Linked DNA regions of Homo sapiens: all the other regions are linked to region 2. The links come from fine-mapping of genetic effects on gene expression. A gene starts in region 2. Each other region holds a variant in brackets. All regions are shown on one strand. Distances are between the middles of the regions. Region 1 overlaps ELP1 (elongator acetyltransferase complex subunit 1). Region 2 holds the start of ELP1 (elongator acetyltransferase complex subunit 1). Region 3 overlaps CTNNAL1 (catenin alpha like 1).

Region 1 (5,000 bases), 26 kb before region 2:
CACACACACACACACACACACACACATATATGCGCATGACTGCATTTATACAAAATTTCTTCCCATCACATTAGCCCATGAGAATTAGCCACTCTAATTATGCTTGACAGTTATTAAAATCAATTATAACATATAACAATCACGCTGGAAAAATGTGGGTAGATGCTAAATTAAAATATTTAACATATCTTTAAAAAGTTGCTTCATCTACTAATATTTATCCTATTTTTCACCACTTTTTGATATATTTTTGGTCTGTTATTTTGACATGGCTCATAACTAGACTTAACCTTCTTGTTAAGTGTGTCTAACAAGAAAGCTACTGCTCCTCAACCTTGATCAATAGAAGTCAAAAGTTGTATGCTCATAAAAGACAAAAACCTAACTCCATTTGCTTAACATGTGGAGTACAGGGAAAAACTGCAATACCTGACATTGAGCTGTCCATGCTCTTCATCCATCTCAGAAGAAGCTGCAGTCAAATGGTGAATGACAGACCGGGGGCTGAACTCACTGTGGCTTACAGCCAGGAAGACGTCTTCTTCAATCCAAGTGAGAAGGCCTAGTTTCAGCGGGTTTACATCTTGATCTTCATTATTCTCAAACTGGATTCTATTGTAAATATTGAAGAATATCCAAGACATGAATAAAACTTAAAAACCACTGAGACGTTCCTGGATGAAGGAAGACTGAAGCATCTTGTATACAGTCCACTCCTAATTATTTGGAGGGACAAAACCTGAGATACTACCAAATACTACAAAATCTAAAATTAATCTTTGTCTGGCTTAAGAATACGTTTTTATATTTTCCCTAAATTTCTCATACCCTGAAATCTTTAAATTTGAAGAGAACACTTGAGGAAACTGACTACACAAGAAAATTACCAGCCCTAGTCCCTACACTAATGAACCCCAGAGCTTTTCCACTGCCATGACTTACCAGCATTCAAACCAGGCTCTGGCAGGTATGTCACTTGCAGTAGAATGGGTCCTTTCCTAAGCACCTCACATTAAACTGACTGACTAGCTTGAGAGATGGTCTCCATGTCTCTAATGCATTCTTTGGTAGCATTTATACACCTGACCAGCGCACTGTTCTTGTCACCTCACGTAGGAACCGACAATGGCTACTTCCTGCCTTTTAGATCAGGTGGCAAATCCGCAGCTCCCACTGAAGAAGTTGGTCACTAGCCTGATCTTCCTCCTCAAACATCTCTCCCCGGACTCAGGCTCTCCATTGCATTCACATAGAGTATCCCATGGAGGATCAGTCCCACCTCTGGTTTTCACTGACACTTTCTTCCCCACCAGACCCAATGTTCCCAATTCTTTGCCAACCCCAAACCTATCCCTTCCCCAAGATCACGATGAGTACTCATGTCTTCTGTGAAATCTCAGACGAATTGGCATTATCCCCATCAATTTTTTTTAAATGAAACTATATTCTAAACTGCCTCATACTTTCTAATTTGTCCTCTATCTCTACTCTAGTGGTTTCAAGTCTATGAAGTGAAATAATGCATGTAAATGCTCTTTAAAAACTACTAAGCATTATACAGGCAGCCTCAAAATCATACAGAGGTTGAACACTTCTGCTGTATTTATTAAATATATCACATATATTTAAGAAACATTATTTATTAAATTCTGCTATTTGTTGTACTCAGTTAATTATTTCTATTAATCTAACAATAAATGTTCCCTGGAGGCAGAGTAGTTTAGTAATGAAGAACATGGACTTATCAAACAGAATAGAATCAAACCCTAAATTCTCTAGTTACCAGGTCCATGACCTTGGGTAAGTTACCTAACCTCTACACTTTGTTTTTTTAATCTGTAAGTACTCAATAAGTGGTACTTTTTAAAAAAGTTCTCTCACAGATGTGGCATTATAATTTGGTTTCTAGGTCATTTTGCAAATGCCTATAGTGTACCTGAGGTATTCAATAACATCCAATTGTTTACAATACTGTTTCAATGGAAGAATGCATTCTGATTTCCATCCCAGGAGCCTCAAAGCACAGCACCCAGAAGTTCTAGATTCTGGGATGGAGCAAAGACAGAGGCTGCATTAGGTCATCCATGTTAACAACCCATACATCCCCATTTATGTAAGAGAATGCAGCTCCGCCTTATCATTGTCATCTCCATCTTTCCCACATGATTTTTCCTGGAGAACCAAGCGCTATTGGGAGTAGGTCCTAGGCTGGCTTACAACTCATGCTCTCCTGCTACCTATCAAATTATATGGCATTCAGACAAACTAC[A/C]TGACTGGCTTCTCCAATCAGATCCGAAAGTCAGGGCCTGGGTGTTGTCTTTATTTCTTGTTCCACTCAGCAACAGGCATAGAACTGTTATCAGATGGCTGAATTTAGGACTGCATGCTGGCTGATTCTGTTCCCAGAAGCCCAAGATAATTAAGAACCTACTTGTATCTCTTTTCCAAATGAGGAGTTCTAAGGCAAACTTTAAATCCACTTCCACCCACAGCTCCCAGTTTCACTGTAGGGTCAGCACTTGGACAATCACCTGGAAAACAAAAATGCAAATATTATCATCGTAAATTATAAGATTTCACCTAATACTAAGGGGATGGTGTCTGCAATTAATGAGTTCTAGAAGGCAAACAGCAATCTAGAAAATAATCACATCTCAACCTCCTTAAAATTTCTGCTTTCCTCTTAAGAACACATCAGTCATAATCTTCCCTGACAAAGGCCACATCTCAGCAAGACCAGGTGAAGGGGCTACCCTCTCAGCCCAGTGCTGTGGACAATTTCCTCCACTGTCTTCAACCACCTCTCAATATCCTCAAATTCTCCAAAGTCCTAAGCACCTGCTTAAAAGACATTTTCTTTCTATTCTTCATCCAGTTTATTCACTGCACAGCAGCCAATGCAAGCCTTTAAAAAATTCAGCCAGAACACTGCACTCCTCTGTTCTAAGCCCTCTGGTGGCTCCTATCTCACTCGGAGTAAAAGCCGCAAGGCCCTACAAGAGCAGATTCCCATCACCACTCTGAACTCACCCACCACCTTCCCCTCCTTTGCTCTGCTGCAGCCACCCTGGCCTCCTGGCTATTTCCTAAACACAACAGGCACTTCGGTGGTTGCTTTTTACTCTGCTTGGAACGCTCTTTCTTTTTTCTTCTTTGCCTTCAAGCATAGAATGCTTGGGACGCTCTTACCCCAGATGTCTGCGTGGCTCCCACTGTGATTCTCACCAGGTCTCTGCTTCAATGTCACCTTCACAGAGAGGCCTTTGGGATCACACTAAATAGGAAAGACACCTTCCCCCTGTAAACCCTTATCCTTAAGCTCTCCCTACCCCTTATTTTGCTTAATTTTTCTCCACAGCACTTGCCATCTGATAGATCATATTTAATTGATATCTTTTGTCTACACCTAGAACAACAAGTTGTAGACAAAGTACAACTAGTTTTCTAGTACAACAAGCCAAGTACTAGAAAAAAGCCTGGCATATAATAAACAATCAAGAAGCAATGAGGGGGAAAAAGGAGTGATACTCAGGATGCATCAAACACCATCTTTGAAAACTTTGGCAACGAACTTGTCTCCACACCACTCAAATGTCTACCACTTGACTCCAAGTTCTTAATTTCCCTTCCACTTGGGCACGGAGCCCTGACCTGTTCCAGTCCAAGATCTCTTTTTCCAGATTCTCTTATATCCAAACTCTCCCCAGTGGGTTCTTTAACTTCTCAGGGTTTTTACTTCATGGATTTGTTATGATCTTTCTCTTCTTTCCATTTCTATGAACACTGCTCTGGCTCAAGCTCTTGCTAGCTCCTGCCTGGACACTTGACAACAGCTTCTCCTAACTAGAATCTCTGCCTCCAGGTGCCCCTGACCTATGGCCAACCCCACATATTGATGCCGAACAATCTTTCAAAAGTGGAGCTCTCAACCTGTCCTATCTCATCACAGGGAGTTTTCTCTCAAGTAAAATGAATGCAGGGTGGTACAGGGTTTCATTCTGAGGAGATAAAAACGTCCTAAAATTGATCGTGGTGATGGCTGTACAACTCTGTGAATATACATATATATACATATACATATGTATATATATTCATACACACACATATAAACCATTGAATTGTACACTTTAAATAGATGAATGATATAAAGCTATTTTTTAAGTGAATGCAGAACAAAACATACCATACATCATAAAGTGACATATAAACTCATTAGCATCATACAGTTAAGTCCCACAAAAGCTTACATCTGATTCTTTTTGCCTTGACAATGAACATATTTGCACTTTTTTTTAAAGCTATTTTGAAAAGTTTAAGGAGGACTGTAACAGCATTTTACACACTGAAACTATAATCAGAGAAACTGGTGATACATCCAGATAGGATCCATGTACACAGTGGGCTGCTGACTTAACAGAAAAGCTGATATGAAAGTAAGGACTTCCCATTTAAATTAATTAATTTTGATTATTCTCTCTTGGCAACTATCTAGGCTTTTTCTGAGAATTCAAAAGATATTTGAAAACAAGGCTAACACTGCCATATGCCAGCAGAATTTATGACATAACCACAGAACTCACAAGTAAAAACAAATTTCAGATTCTCCAGCACATCAGGAAAGTAATGAAGAACTGACAGCAATGGGGCTGTGGCAGGACAAGTGGATTAGGAGCTAGAACACCTGTGTTGAGGTCCTTGTCCATTCTTGTTCAAACAAATTACAAAACCTCTGACACTGTGTTCCCTCATCTACAAAAGAGGAAAACCCCATCTCTGACACAGCTCCTAGGAGGGATGAGATCAACTGAAAATATGTGTAAAGGCTATGAAAAGAGTAAAACATGTTAACAATGTATAACATACTATGTTATTTCCAGAGTCCAATGTTATTCTTAAATAACTGACTCTTCAAGTCAGTAAGGGAAAAGGAATGGCTCGTACAAACCAGTATAGGATTAAAAAAAAAAAAAACAAAAACCCAAGGCAATTAAATATCATAA
Region 2 (6,468 bases):
GTACACACCCATGTATGGATTATAGCAGCAACCTGACCCACTCTATACAGTTATGGTCTACAAATTAGGAATTCTGAAACCTATTTTATGTTCTTTTTAGGAGAGGCAAGATTCTCAACTTTAGAATGTTTTCTTCAAAAAAGATGTAATATCAGTTATTCCTTTGGGAAAGTTGAAAGAACAAATGAATGGGGAAACATTTTATTTTTGCATATTAGGACATCTTTATAAAATCATGAGGAAAAACAAAAGGGTATCCCACTGATTAGCACTATTTGAAAATCCATTTTTATATACTGGCAGTTGAAGAGAATCTGAAATGACTTTAATATTCACCAGGTCTATTCATTTATAAACTGGTTTTATACATTCATAAAAAAACTGAAATCAAAGATAGAAAAGCATTTACTGTTCTAAAGGGGAAGAGAAAATACTGGGACATGACAACAATTTACTTCAAAATGATGACCAACATTTCAAGGACCCTGATGACCTGACATAACTACTTCCAGTAACTTTGTTCTTCTGGCCAGGCTTTTCCCAGGACAATATAAAACGTGAGAAAAGAGTGCTAAACAAGACATCTACTTTGGTCTGGCAAAATCAGGCTTGCTTAAATGCATAACATTACCTAAGTAGGGGAAAAAAATGTTACTGTGCTAGTTATTTATATTCAGATCCCTTTAAGGCTTATGATTGTAAGTCCCTAACTTATGTTAGGGGTAGCAATTACAAGGACCACACCGGTCTTATTGTCACTTTAATCCAAGGAGACTTCTCTCATCTTGGCACCCCACATATGTATGACATAGAAAGAATAAAGATGAATCAATCCTAATAGTACACAGAAGATAATGTCAAGTGTCATAGGAATTATATAATATATAATGTGGGATAAGAGAAAGGTAAGTTTATATATGATGGAAGTGAGGAAGACAATGATTTTAGTAAGTTTTGGTGACAATTATATTCAAGAACTGCTAGAAATTACTTGAACCTCTAACATATCATGCAGGTTTTTTTGTTTTTTGAGACGGAGTTTCGCTCTTATTGCCCAGGCTGGGGTGCAATGGCGCGATCTCGGCTCACCGCAACATCTGCCTCCCGGGTTCAAGCGATTCTCCTGCCTCAGCCTCCGGAGTAGCTGGGATTACAGGCGCCCGGCACCATGCCCAGTTAATTTTTGTATTTTTAGTAGAGACAGGGTTTCACCATGTTGGCCAGGCTGTTCTTGAACTCCTAACCTCAAGTGATCCACCCGCCTCTGCCTCCCAAAGTGCTGGGATTACAGGCCTGAGCCACCGTGCCTGGCTGCGTTTTTCATCTTTAAACATCATAAAAACGCCTCAAAACTAGTTTCTCTGAAATTTCACACCCATCAGCCTTATTCCCTTATCTTCTCGGAGGAAGACTTCCCTCCACTTCTTTCCAGGCTAGGAAAGGAATATCCTCCATATTGCCACAGGACCTAGGCCTATTAGTACTCTTTCTTGGACATCTGCAACCTCCAACCTTCCTGCCTCCACTGATTCAAACTCTTCGCAGTTCTTAAATGTGCTAAAGATCCCTCCACACCAAAGGTCAATCGTGGATTCTCTCTTAATTTCCTGATAACTGCTTCATTTTCTTCCCTTGCTCCTTCGACTATCCACCTCTTGGCTAGACATCACATGCATGATTACATATACCAGGTAGATCACCAATACGCTGATTAGGCCTAAATGCCTAGCCCTGACTGAATTAGCCCAAACTTACCACTAAACCCACATTTTCAACCTCCTGATAGAATCACAAGCATGTCTCACATGCACATCAAATGCGACCTGGAAAGCAAAGAACTTGCTATTCTTCCCCCAAATGACAGTTCCCACTATTTGGGGACAGACCATTTCTACTCTATGTCCCCAAGCTGAAAAACTGTCTTTGCTGCCTTTTTGCTTACTCTTCATACGGATCTATTCATTGATTAGTTCCGTGGCTGTCAATATACAGTTGAATTCTTTACGATCCGGTTTGTGGCCTACATCCAACACCGACTGAGCACTTGCTAAGTACTGGGATCTGAAGATTACTCAGCCACTGTCTCCACGGAGATCATCGTTAACGGGAGAGAAAGCCACGTAAAACACCACGTTAGATGGAGAAGCACAGAGGACACCACCTCCACGAAAAAGTCTCACACGCGAGAAAGGACCCGCACCACAGCACCCGAGCCTCTATTAACCGCCGCCTTCCATCGTGAATTAATACTCTCGCTTTCAGCGTTATTATCAACCCCCTGCAAGCAATCAAGAGGCTGGGTTAAGTCCGGCTGGAGGGGCAGCAGGCATCCCTGGGCTGTCGCGCCTCCCAGCGCCCCCGATGGAGCAGGTGGCAAGGCTGCAAAAAGAATTTAAGGCTCTAGGAAAGAGGTGGTGCAGCCCGCACTCCAGTCCCCGGCCCGCAGCAGGCAGAGGAGGCTCCGGGTCTCCTTCACCCGGACACCGCCGGCGGAGAGGTCCACTCCCGTGCCCCTACCCTGGATGGATCGCTTACCTGAGGACCCCCAAACAGAGGTGCGTCCGGCCTCGCCTCCCCAGCCACGCGCAGCCGGCTACCCAGAGTCAGCTCCCACAGTCCGCACCCAGAGTCGGCTCCGAATTGCGCACGCGTCTCTGTCCGCGGCTCCCGCTCTCTCTCCGACGGCACTAGGCCTCCAAGGATGGAGGCGCCCTCCAGGGGAAAACGCTGAAGCGCTGCAAAGAAGCCAGCGACTCAATGGGTGCGTCAACTAGGCAGCCGCAGCACTGGGAGTGCGGCGCGGGAGTGACGTCACCAGGCGGAGGGGGCGAGGCCGGGCCCGCTTCTGGTCACTTACGGCGGCCGGCCTTCTTTGTAGGCCTGGCACCGTAGAGGTAGAGGAGCTACATTGGCCGCGTCCCCTGTCCCTCTGCCCTCTTGCCCATCTGCCCAAACTTTTGTATTTGATCTCTGTTTTGATGTCGAACCCCAAAGCACTGTAATTGGGGGGGGCGGGGGGGGGGGTGGAACCTGCGGACCTGAGAGCAGCGCGCGTGCGCACGACACGCGCTGTGCGCCGGAAGAGCACGCCCAGTCCGGGCTGCGCGGAGGAAGCGCTGGGGTCCCGGAGGGCGGGGGTGGCGGCGCCGGAGGTCGCCATGGCTACCGAGCCCGAAGCCGCGGAGCCGGTGGTGCCTTCGCTCGTGGATCGATACTTCACTCGCTGGTACAAACCGGGTAAGTGCGGAGTGATGTTGATCCCTCCTTGGCCGCACTGGCCTAATGCTGTGTAGACTATGTTGACAGATCATAAGCCACGCGCGCTCTCCCTGGCTCTCCGTCCCCACGTCAGAAGGCACTGGACTTCTGTGTTCCGTCTAGCCCCAGGGAATGGCATTTGCAAAGACCTGGTGGCCTGAAATACTTCAGGGCGCATTCTGGGGCCGGCGATTGCAGTGCGAGCTCTAGGGTGTTGCTCGCAGTAAGATGAGTACTCTAAACGGAGGCCCCAAAGGTAGGCGGAGGGCTAGGTTGCAACAGTCCTTAAGTGCCTGGAGGGATTGAGGGGCTCACTCTCACAGGGAGTAGCGATACATAAAATTATTTAAATGATCAGATCGAAACTAAGGTAGAGGCAGTAGGGATGGCGAGAAGAGGGTGGGTTAGATTAGAGACATTTAGAAAGAAGAAGAATCTATACATTTACCTTAAGAGACGCCATCTGCCACTTAGAAGTAGGTATTCTTTTTGTACTGTTTTGTGTAAGCAGAACCAGTGGTGGGAGCATCGTTGGGGACTCTCCTTTCTTCCTTTCATTCAGTGATAATGGTTATACTCAGTTTAAAAAATATATATTGTAGCATATTTTCTGTTGGCCAAACATAGGGTGACCAACCTGTCCTAGTTCACCCATGACTGAGGGGTTTCCCAGAATGTCGGACTTGCACCAACATCAGGACAGTCCTGGAAACCACCAACAAAAAATATATATCATAAAGAACGGGATGCTAATTGCATTTTCCTAGCAAAAATACTACGTGTACTCATTTTGAAGTGAGTGTAAAGTAAGATGGAGCAAGGAGTTAATTACCTTAATGTTGAATAAATTATTCTATCTGGGCCAGATCTCTTTAAATACTTTCTAGGAAACCTTTAGGTATGTCTTTTTGAGTAATGAAGGGATACCCGTGATCAGCATGCAGCATGTATGTGTCCAGTCTTCATTATCAACTATATGACCCAAAGAAAGTACCACATAGTGGTAGTAAATATTGATTTCAGCCACCAACAGACTCATGTATTCTTCTAGATGTCAAAGGAAAATTTTGTGAGGACCACTGTATACTACAGCACTCTAACCGGTAAGCAAATTGGGAATTTTAAATTATCAAAAATTTTTTTTTCCTGGTATTGTAGCCTGGTATGGTCTTGTGGTCTTGGATTGAACAAATGTTCACTAAACAAACATGCATTAATTATCTTCTACTGTGTTGAAATGGTATTATTATAGGAGTTTGTTTGGCAAGAATGAGTATTCCAGTGCCTGGCCACTCTGAACATATAAATTTGATTACTCAAACATCCAAATGGAGGACCACATCATCAGCTGCTACTTGAAGTGGCCAGTCTGTGCCCAACTACTGAACTGTTCAGAGCCCACAGAAAGGGCTACGGTAGAGACATGTATGGTATCTCGTATACACAGGCATGCCTTATTTCTTTGTCTTCTACCCCAGTGCTACCTACCTAAAGACCTCTGGTACTCTTCCCTTTCCTGGGAAAGAAATTCAATCTTGTTTTCTCTTTTATTATTGTATTCTCTATTCTACAGTTATGCCCCAATAGTAGCCAAAGGAAAAAGGGGGAAGATGATAGTTTGACTAAACAAATACCAGTTCATACATTCTTGTTCCAATAGGAGTTATGGGAGGAAAAATTATTCCAAGCAATCACACAGGATCAACTTTTTCTCCTTGTAGAATATGTGTCATCACATTGGCAGAATCTCATCCAGTTCTTCAAAGTGGAAAAACAATTAAAAGCATTTCCTATCAGATCAGTACCAACTGTAGCAGACTTCAGAACAAGGTCTCTGGGAAATTTAAGCGGGTATGTTCCTGTAATTCTGTGATTATCTACTTACATCCTCTATATTCATGGTAATGACAGATCCAATGAACCTTAGAATCCAGTAGCATATGCTTAGCATACTTCTCTAGCAGTTTGAGGTGCTAATTTTAGGTATACTTTCACCTAAAGAAATTCTCAGCTCCCCCAAATTAGGTATCTCAGGAGGTGTAGTATCTGTTATATTAGGTTCTGTGCTACTATCCCTATAATGCCCAGGATGGAGGAGGGGGAAGGCAGGCCTTTGAAAGGAGAACTCTAATAGCAATATAACAAGATATTTTGTCCCTTCTAGTTGTATTAAACTAGTATGTCGAGTTCTGTAAAATTTAGGTGACTAACTCTTCTTTACCATATATTTCCACATGTAAATTAAACAGAAAAAAAATTCCCAAGGGAGTTAGAAAAAAAAAAAGAAAAACATGGGCCGGTCACAATGGCTCACGCCTATAATCTCAGCATTTTGGGAGACCAAGGTGGGTGGATCATGAGGTCAGGAGTTTGAGACTAGCCTGGCCAACGGGGTGAAAACCCATCTCTATAAAAATACAAAAATTAGCCAGGCACAGTAGTGGGCACCTGTAATCCCAGCCACTCGGGAGGCTGAGGCAGGAGAATGGCTTGAACCTGGGAGGCGGAGGTTGCAGTGAGCTGAGATCGCACCACTGCACTCCAGCCTGAGCGGCAGAGCAAGACCAAGACTCCGTCTCAAAAAAACAAAAACAAAAACATGAATACGAGAAAATATATTTGCTCCTTACTGTTTTTCCATTCCTAAAGCATTGTCAATGTAATACTCATGTACCCACCCCCTGTACCTGCACACAACACTCGGTTATATAGAATGCTATCTCTACCCTCTGTAACTCTAGGCAAAATGGACAGATTATTAAAAGAGTATCATGCCAAGGAGAATTTAGTGACATGTTAAAATGTCTTAACAAACCCACTGGTTGGGAAAGTTTCTGTGGATGATTTAAGTCGTTCATTTACTGAGTTCATACTAAGAGTTTCTGCTAATTGCTCTCACTATTCTAGGAGACCCTTATTCAAACCCCCCTTTGTAGGCCTGAAGTCCCCTAATAATTACTGATTTATTGTGCTTTACAATTACTGATTTTTCCTCACTCAAGAAACTAGTGGACTTAGAAAAGCATGCACCTCTCTTAAACGATAGTCTACAAGTTACAATAACACTTAAGACTTCTGAAGTTTCAATGATAAATCTCTGTCCAAAATAGTAACACTTAAGGCAGGTACAGTTGCTCATGCCTGTAATCCCAGCACTTTGGGAAGCCGAGGCGGGAAGATCACTTGAGGCCAGGAATTTGTGACAAACCT
Region 3 (6,468 bases), 26 kb after region 2:
TATATGTGTGTCACGTTCTGTTTCTCTTGGACAGTGCTGATCTAGAAGAAGAACTGTTACTAAGAGTGAGTTAATGGTACTTGGGAATAGCTTTATGATTCAAATCATTTCCTTGTAATGTCAAAATTGTAAGGGAATTTTATTAATTAATGGCTTTCTGATTTCAGAATGGTGAGGGGAAAAAACTTAAAAAGGAAGAGGCTATTTTCATGCCTTGGCTCTAAGCTCTGATGTGAAAAGTGCTCGATTTAGTTGCAATATTAACAGAAGATAGTCTTCCGGTCACTCAGAATTTCAAAATTCACCATCTATCTTAATTCAAAGTCTGAATCCTGTCCATAATATCCTTTAAAAAGTGCTCTTAGCATATTATAAAGGGCACATTAAACAGAAGTAGGAACCCGGGCATGGTGGCTCATGCCTGTAATCTTGGCACTTTGGGAGGCTAAGGCAAGTGGATCACCCAAGGTCAGGAATTCAAGACCAGCCTGGCCAAAATGGTGACACCCCATCTCTACTAAAAATACAAAAATTAGCCAGGCGTAGTGGTGCATGCCTGTAGTCTGTTCTTTTTTCTGTTTTTTGTTTTGTTTTGTTTCAGCCTGGGTGATAGAGCAAGACTGTCTCAAAAAAAAAAAAAAAAAAAAACAAAGTGGGAAAGTACTAAAAATAAATAAATAATAAAGAAAAAAGAATTTTGAATTTTGAAAGGGCACTATCATTACTTAAATGTCATCAGCTACAGGAGTAATCTTGTATTATCTAACTTAGTAATCATCTATAGTGCCCATGGCCCTAAAATGTTCATATTTACTCTCCACAAGTTGGGGCAAAACCAACTGTTTCGGTATCTCTTATATCTCTAAGATACCACAGAGTTAAAGCAAGTAGAATGTATAAATAAATGCATTGAGAAATAAATCCAATGAAAAGAAAGCTTTTATGTAACCTGATTTGCTACTATTTTCATCCACCTAGTAGTATTTATCACTTGATAGTTCTAATCCCTCTGGTCCTCTTACAGATACTTTGTTTTGCTTCCTATTCCCATCCTTTAGTTAGACTCTGCATGATTTATACGAATTTGAGGATAATTGCAAAATTGATCATTTTTTCAGATAGGCCTCCTCCACATACTATGCAGGTAAGATTCTTCCTCTTTCCCCCAGTTCCAACAGAAACCAAACAAGTTGACAATAACACAAGAAAAAGCAATCTAATACTAACAAGAGATCTAAATTATAGTTAATTATAGATGTTATTTCCCAATTTTTTTATAGATGTTATTTCCCACTTCTTTTTTTTTTGAGACAGAGTCTCACTCTGTCACCCAGGCTAAAGTGCAGTGGTGCAATCTCGGCTCACTGCAACCTCCACCTCCTGGGTTCAAGCGATTCTCGTGCCTCAGCCTCCTGAGTAGCTGAGTAGCTGGGACTACAGGTGCACACCACCACGCTCGGCTAATTATAGATGTTATTTCCATGTGAATCTAATTATTGCCGTTGATTCTAAGCAGAAAAAAAAAAAAAAAGAATAAACTGGCTCAGCCAGGCACGGTGGCTCATGTTCATAATCCCAGCACTTTGGGAGGCCAATGCGGGAGGGTTACTTGAGGCCAGGAGTTGAAGACCAGCCTGAGTAGGCTGGGCATGGTGGCTCATGCCTGTAATCCCAGCTCTTTGGGAGGCTGAGGCAGGCAGATTATGAGGTCAGGAGATCGAGACCATCCTGGCTAACACGGTGAAACCCTGTCTCTACTAAAAATACAAAAAAAAAAAATTAGCCGGGTGTGGTGGTGGGCGCCTGTAGTCCCAGTTACTTGGGAGGCTGAGGCAGGAGAATGGCATGAACCCGGGAGGCAGAGCTTGCAGTGAGCTGAGATCACGCCACTGCACTCCAGCCTGGGTGACAGAGCGAGACTCCATATCAAAAAAAAAAAAAAAAAAAAAAAGACCAGCCTGGGTATCACAGCGAGACTCCCATCTCTGGGGGAAAAAAATTAAAAAATCTGGGCATGGTGGCCAGCACCTGTAGTTCTAGATATGTGGGAGGATCCCTTGAACCCAGGAGTTTGAGGCTGCAGTAAGCTATGATCACACCACTGCACACCAGCCTGGGTGACAAAGTGAGACCCTGTCTCCAAAATATAATAATAATAATAAAATAAACTGGCTAAATTATGTTTAGCTGTTATATCAAAGAAGTAGCATAAACAAAACTCTATCATATTATAAACATTAAAAATAGTTGGAAAAACAGGACTATTTGGAGAAAATATACTTAGTACAGATCTGATATATAGAATTGTCTTCAAAGCACTGTCCTCAACGAGGTATTGTATGTTTAATACTCCCTAAATCCTGTTTAGTCAACACTACAATTGTGCCATCTTCTGAGTTTATACCTTCAGATAAATTAAGTTCACAATTAAGTTTAAAGGCCCTCTCATCTTAAGGGAGCACTAAAATTATTTCTTATGAAAACCTAATTGAGAAATGTTCTCAGTTACAATATATAGAGCCTTTCTGTATATCTACAAAATAAATCGAATTCCCCAAGAATGGAAAAGCCTTATCATTTCACTGAAAATGTGCTAAATTATCCCTGATTCACATTTCTTATAATTAGCTATCTTTAGTTCTGGAGGCACTCTATATGGTATGATCAATCAAAAAATTAATGTCCCCAGACCCACTTAAAATGAATCCCTGACCACTAAAGCATAGGCAGCTTATCAGCTAAACTCAGGAGCAGGAATGAGGTATTCTAATCTAAACCCAGCTATCATCCTCCAACTCCTCCCTCTCCCTCACCTCTATATTCAATTGACCAATAAACCCTACCAATATTAGTTTTTAAATTCTTCTTAGTCCCCTTATCTTCATCTTGACTATCATCACCCTAGTATAGACCATCGTCTCTTCTCTGGATAGATCACTCCCTTGTTGCAGGCTCCTACCATCCCCAAACAAACTCATCTTTACCCACGAACATGTTTATCTTCCTGTACCCCCATTTTTAGTGGCATCCAATCTGCCAAACGATAATGTAAATGCAGGGCTATGAAATAGGGCTGCCAGGAAAATGAGAAAAGTAGTTACAGAACTGAAAACCAAATTAAGATTCTTGGCACGATTGTGATCATAACTGCCCTACATAGTTTAGTTAGAGCTGCATCTCTATAAACTGAAGCGTAGTCATATTTACTCTGAAATGATTGAAATAGAACAAAGGGAATTCAGCTTCCTTAAAGGAAGGATAGAGACCGCAAGCTCTGAGATAAGGCTTTTTTCTGACACTTATTATCCAAAATAATCTCAAATTCTAAACTGACACATATTCACCACTAAGGAAAAGTGGAGTCTTTTAGGTGTGGTCCCTTCTAATACAAGGACCACAGCCTCCCTGGAGGTTTGGGTGAGAAGGCAGAATGGGATGAAAGCAGAAGACAGGAAGACAAGTATTGATTTTTACCTTCTTGAAACAATCCCAGGAGGTCCTAGTGTGAAATTTCAGTGTCTGGGGTTAAGGTGGACAATGACCTAGGTCTCAGACTAACTTTTAGCATGTGAACACTAAAGCCTCCCTCCTATTGCTTAGCGTGATGTTTACCACTTAGTTGGATGGTTGAATG[ATACT/A]TACAAGTATGCCTGGTAGTTTGCCAATCACAGGAGGCAAGTTATGCAGAGCAGAACTAAGGTGGCTAGAATACAGCAAAGGCTTTTCAACAATAGTCATAACAGGAGTCATAACAGCAGCAAAGAGAAATCAGGACCTGAAGAATACACCTTTGTATGGAAAGCAGTGGGCAGGTGCAAGGTAATGAGCAGGTTTGTCACATCAACCATGCATAACAGGAAGAACAACACTGTGGCACTGGATTCAGTTCAGTCAGAATGGTTAACCCAGAGATGGACTTCTTTGAGGAAAAAGCTATGCTCATGAGGTTCATGATAAAAATCAGGACAAATAAAGGCAGTACACACAATCAACCAACTCCATCTCAGTGAAACCTACATAAACCCTTCCTGAACAGAGAGGCACTTTCCCAGTGAAACAATAAGTGTCTCATTGACTGAAGGCTGAGGCGTTTCCCACGTAAGAAGGAATTTCTGTTCAGTCCTTAGGAAGTTTGGGTAATGCTGATTTTTTTTAACATAAGTTAACTGAACCTAAAGAAGAGATTATTTACATAATATCCAGCTTGAAAGTAAAAGAAACCACAGTGCTCACATAGTCTGAAAACAGGCATAGGATGTGCAAGCAGTATTACACATTATTTCATTTACATCCATTGAAATAAAGAAACAAACTCAAAAGGGCAGGTAATGTGCCCAGGATTCCATTACTAACAGATTGTTTTACCTCTTCTGTAATTTAGCTGGCCCCATCCTCAGCCAATAAGTGGACCAACCAAAACAAGAATACAGTCATTACTTGTTCCTTGCCCTGTACTTCCTGGGATCTCTCAGTCATTTCTGAAATAGCTTTGGGAGGGAAAAAAGCAGAACTCAGAGCTGCAGTTGTGAGCATTTTTCACAGAATTGGTTCATTCTCATTAGAAAACTTTAGGATTGGAGTGGAGTTTAACTGCTTGAGTAATAGAGTATGGGTAGTTAATAAAATTTCATCTTTGGCATCATTCAAACCTCAGTAAGGGTCCCAGCTCCTATAGTTTACTCACTGTGGGATACTTCGAGCCTCAGTTTCATCATTCATAAAATGTGGAAATAATACCTGTCTCCAGGGTTACTGAGAGGATTAAATGAGAAAATGGACATCCAGCACTTATGAAAGTACCTGGAACCCAGTACATTCTCAAGAGATGGCAGCTACTATTATTTTTATGGTTATAATAGTCACGGGCCTCTGAAGGATCATGTTTACAATTTTACCCACAAAGACCCTAGTAGCCTGTGGCTTTTACTTTTCCTTAAACTTCCCTAGCTATTTTTTTTAAAGAGCCTAACTTTGGTAGAAGAAAGGCAAATCTCAGAGACAGAAAAGGAGAACACTGAATTAATGTTGCATTAGATGTCCGGTGAGAGGAATCTTTCAGAGGGTGTCAGTTCACCATTGGAGAAGGGATGAGCTTCATTTGTACAAAGAAGCAAGGAGTTTACCTTTGCTTCTGCAGATCTAGAGGTTTTCTACGGTGGGGCCAGACTGGCTAGTCCTCCCTAGAGTAGGAGAAAGGACATAGGGAGAGATGGATGCCAGAAAGTAGGAGAGATTGAGATTAAGTAAGAGAAATTGGACCTAATGTTTTCTCATAAACTATTTAGTTTTACCACAAGGTAACAGTGGTCATGATGCTGATGCTGATAGAGGTAACACTTGTTGAGAATTTACTGTGAATTAACTTATTTTATTTAATCTTCACACTTACCATATTAGGTAGTTTTGTCATCATTATCCCCATTTTGCAGATGTAAAACTTGAAGCATAGAGAGATTAAGTTAGGAAATAGCAGAGGCAGGATTGGAACCTAGGCAGTCCACTTCAGAACCTGTATTTCAACTTCTACCCAATTCTATCCCTAACATGAGATTAGCACTCAGATCTCAGAGGAAGGAAGAGACCCCTTGATGGAAAATGCAACTTGGGTTTGTTTTCTGTTTTAAGGAAAAAAATTACTTATATTTATAGAAAGAAAACCCCCTTGCCAAGCTTATCAACCTCTAATTGCTACCGTAATTGCTACTCAGAACATCGCCTGGGATTAAGGCAGAGAATAACTGTTAAATGACTGCTATCTTTCTTGAGAGGGGGGAAAAGCCTGTTATAACTCCTCTTCTTATGGAAATAAAAGAGAGAAGAAAATAGACCAAAATGCTGGTAGAACAGCCCGATTTAGAAACTGCGAGCATCTCAAACACAAAGAGGAAGGGGGCTCAGGCCCTTGGTCAAGAAAACTAGAACCATATCCATTTCAGATGATGATGAACTCACTGGCCTAGGGACATGGAAGAAGTACAAGTAATGAAAACTCAGCCATAGCCCATGTTTACAAGAATGAAAACACAAACCTCTTCAGCACTGAAAACACTATAGGAGATACCTGTACTAAGCTCAATGGTGTTCTGGTAAAGAGGAGAATCAGCTGGCCAGGATTGATGCCATATTCTTTCCAGAATGGCTGCAGCTATTAGTAAAGCTTCTCACAGTGCACGTGGAACACGTTTACAAGTACATAAAGTCAGTCACATGCCAGAAAAATAGCCATCCTGTGGCACTCCTCCAGCCTCCCTACTGGGCTGATGTCATGGGCTGATGACAACTGATAAAGCCAGAAGACAATATTCCTCTGGCCTTTAAAGAGAGCCAGCCAGGATAAAGACACAGTGCAGGGTATATTCATGCCCAGAAGTCGAAAGTACACTAACTTCAGGTAGTGCTCACAAAAGACTTTTAGAGCTGACAGGTCACTGAGATCACTGAGCCTAAGACTTTCATTATTGAGTCAAG

The links. PIP is the estimated chance that this variant, and not a neighbour inherited with it, causes the effect.
Region 1: its variant is the best candidate, but not a certain one, in a credible set for the expression of ELP1 in whole blood (INTERVAL, PIP 0.82).
Region 3: its variant is the best candidate, but not a certain one, in a credible set for the expression of ELP1 in sun-exposed skin (GTEx, PIP 0.87).

What each region holds. Positions count from the first base shown.
Region 1 is chr9:108,905,874-108,910,873 of GRCh38, forward strand. It overlaps ELP1 (elongator acetyltransferase complex subunit 1), which reads right to left. Exons shown (of 37, transcript NM_003640.5): 13 at 2,432-2,531; 14 at 430-612. Among named protein-coding and RNA genes, the nearest start is that of ELP1, 26 kb to the right of the region's middle. The variant A/C (reference allele first, on the strand shown) is at 2,270.
Region 2 is chr9:108,931,329-108,937,796 of GRCh38, forward strand. ELP1 (elongator acetyltransferase complex subunit 1) reads right to left here and starts at 2,796. Exons shown (of 37, transcript NM_003640.5): 1 at 2,536-2,796. ABITRAM (actin binding transcription modulator) reads left to right here and starts at 3,072. Exons shown (of 6, transcript NM_017832.4): 1 at 3,072-3,237; 2 at 4,310-4,361; 3 at 4,980-5,109. The coding sequence starts at 3,159. RefSeq lists an enhancer at 2,039-2,268 and a silencer at 3,019-3,298.
Region 3 is chr9:108,957,437-108,963,904 of GRCh38, forward strand. All of the region lies in intron 11 of CTNNAL1 (catenin alpha like 1), which reads right to left. Among named protein-coding and RNA genes, the nearest start is that of ABITRAM, 26 kb to the left of the region's middle. The variant ATACT/A (reference allele first, on the strand shown) is at 3,635.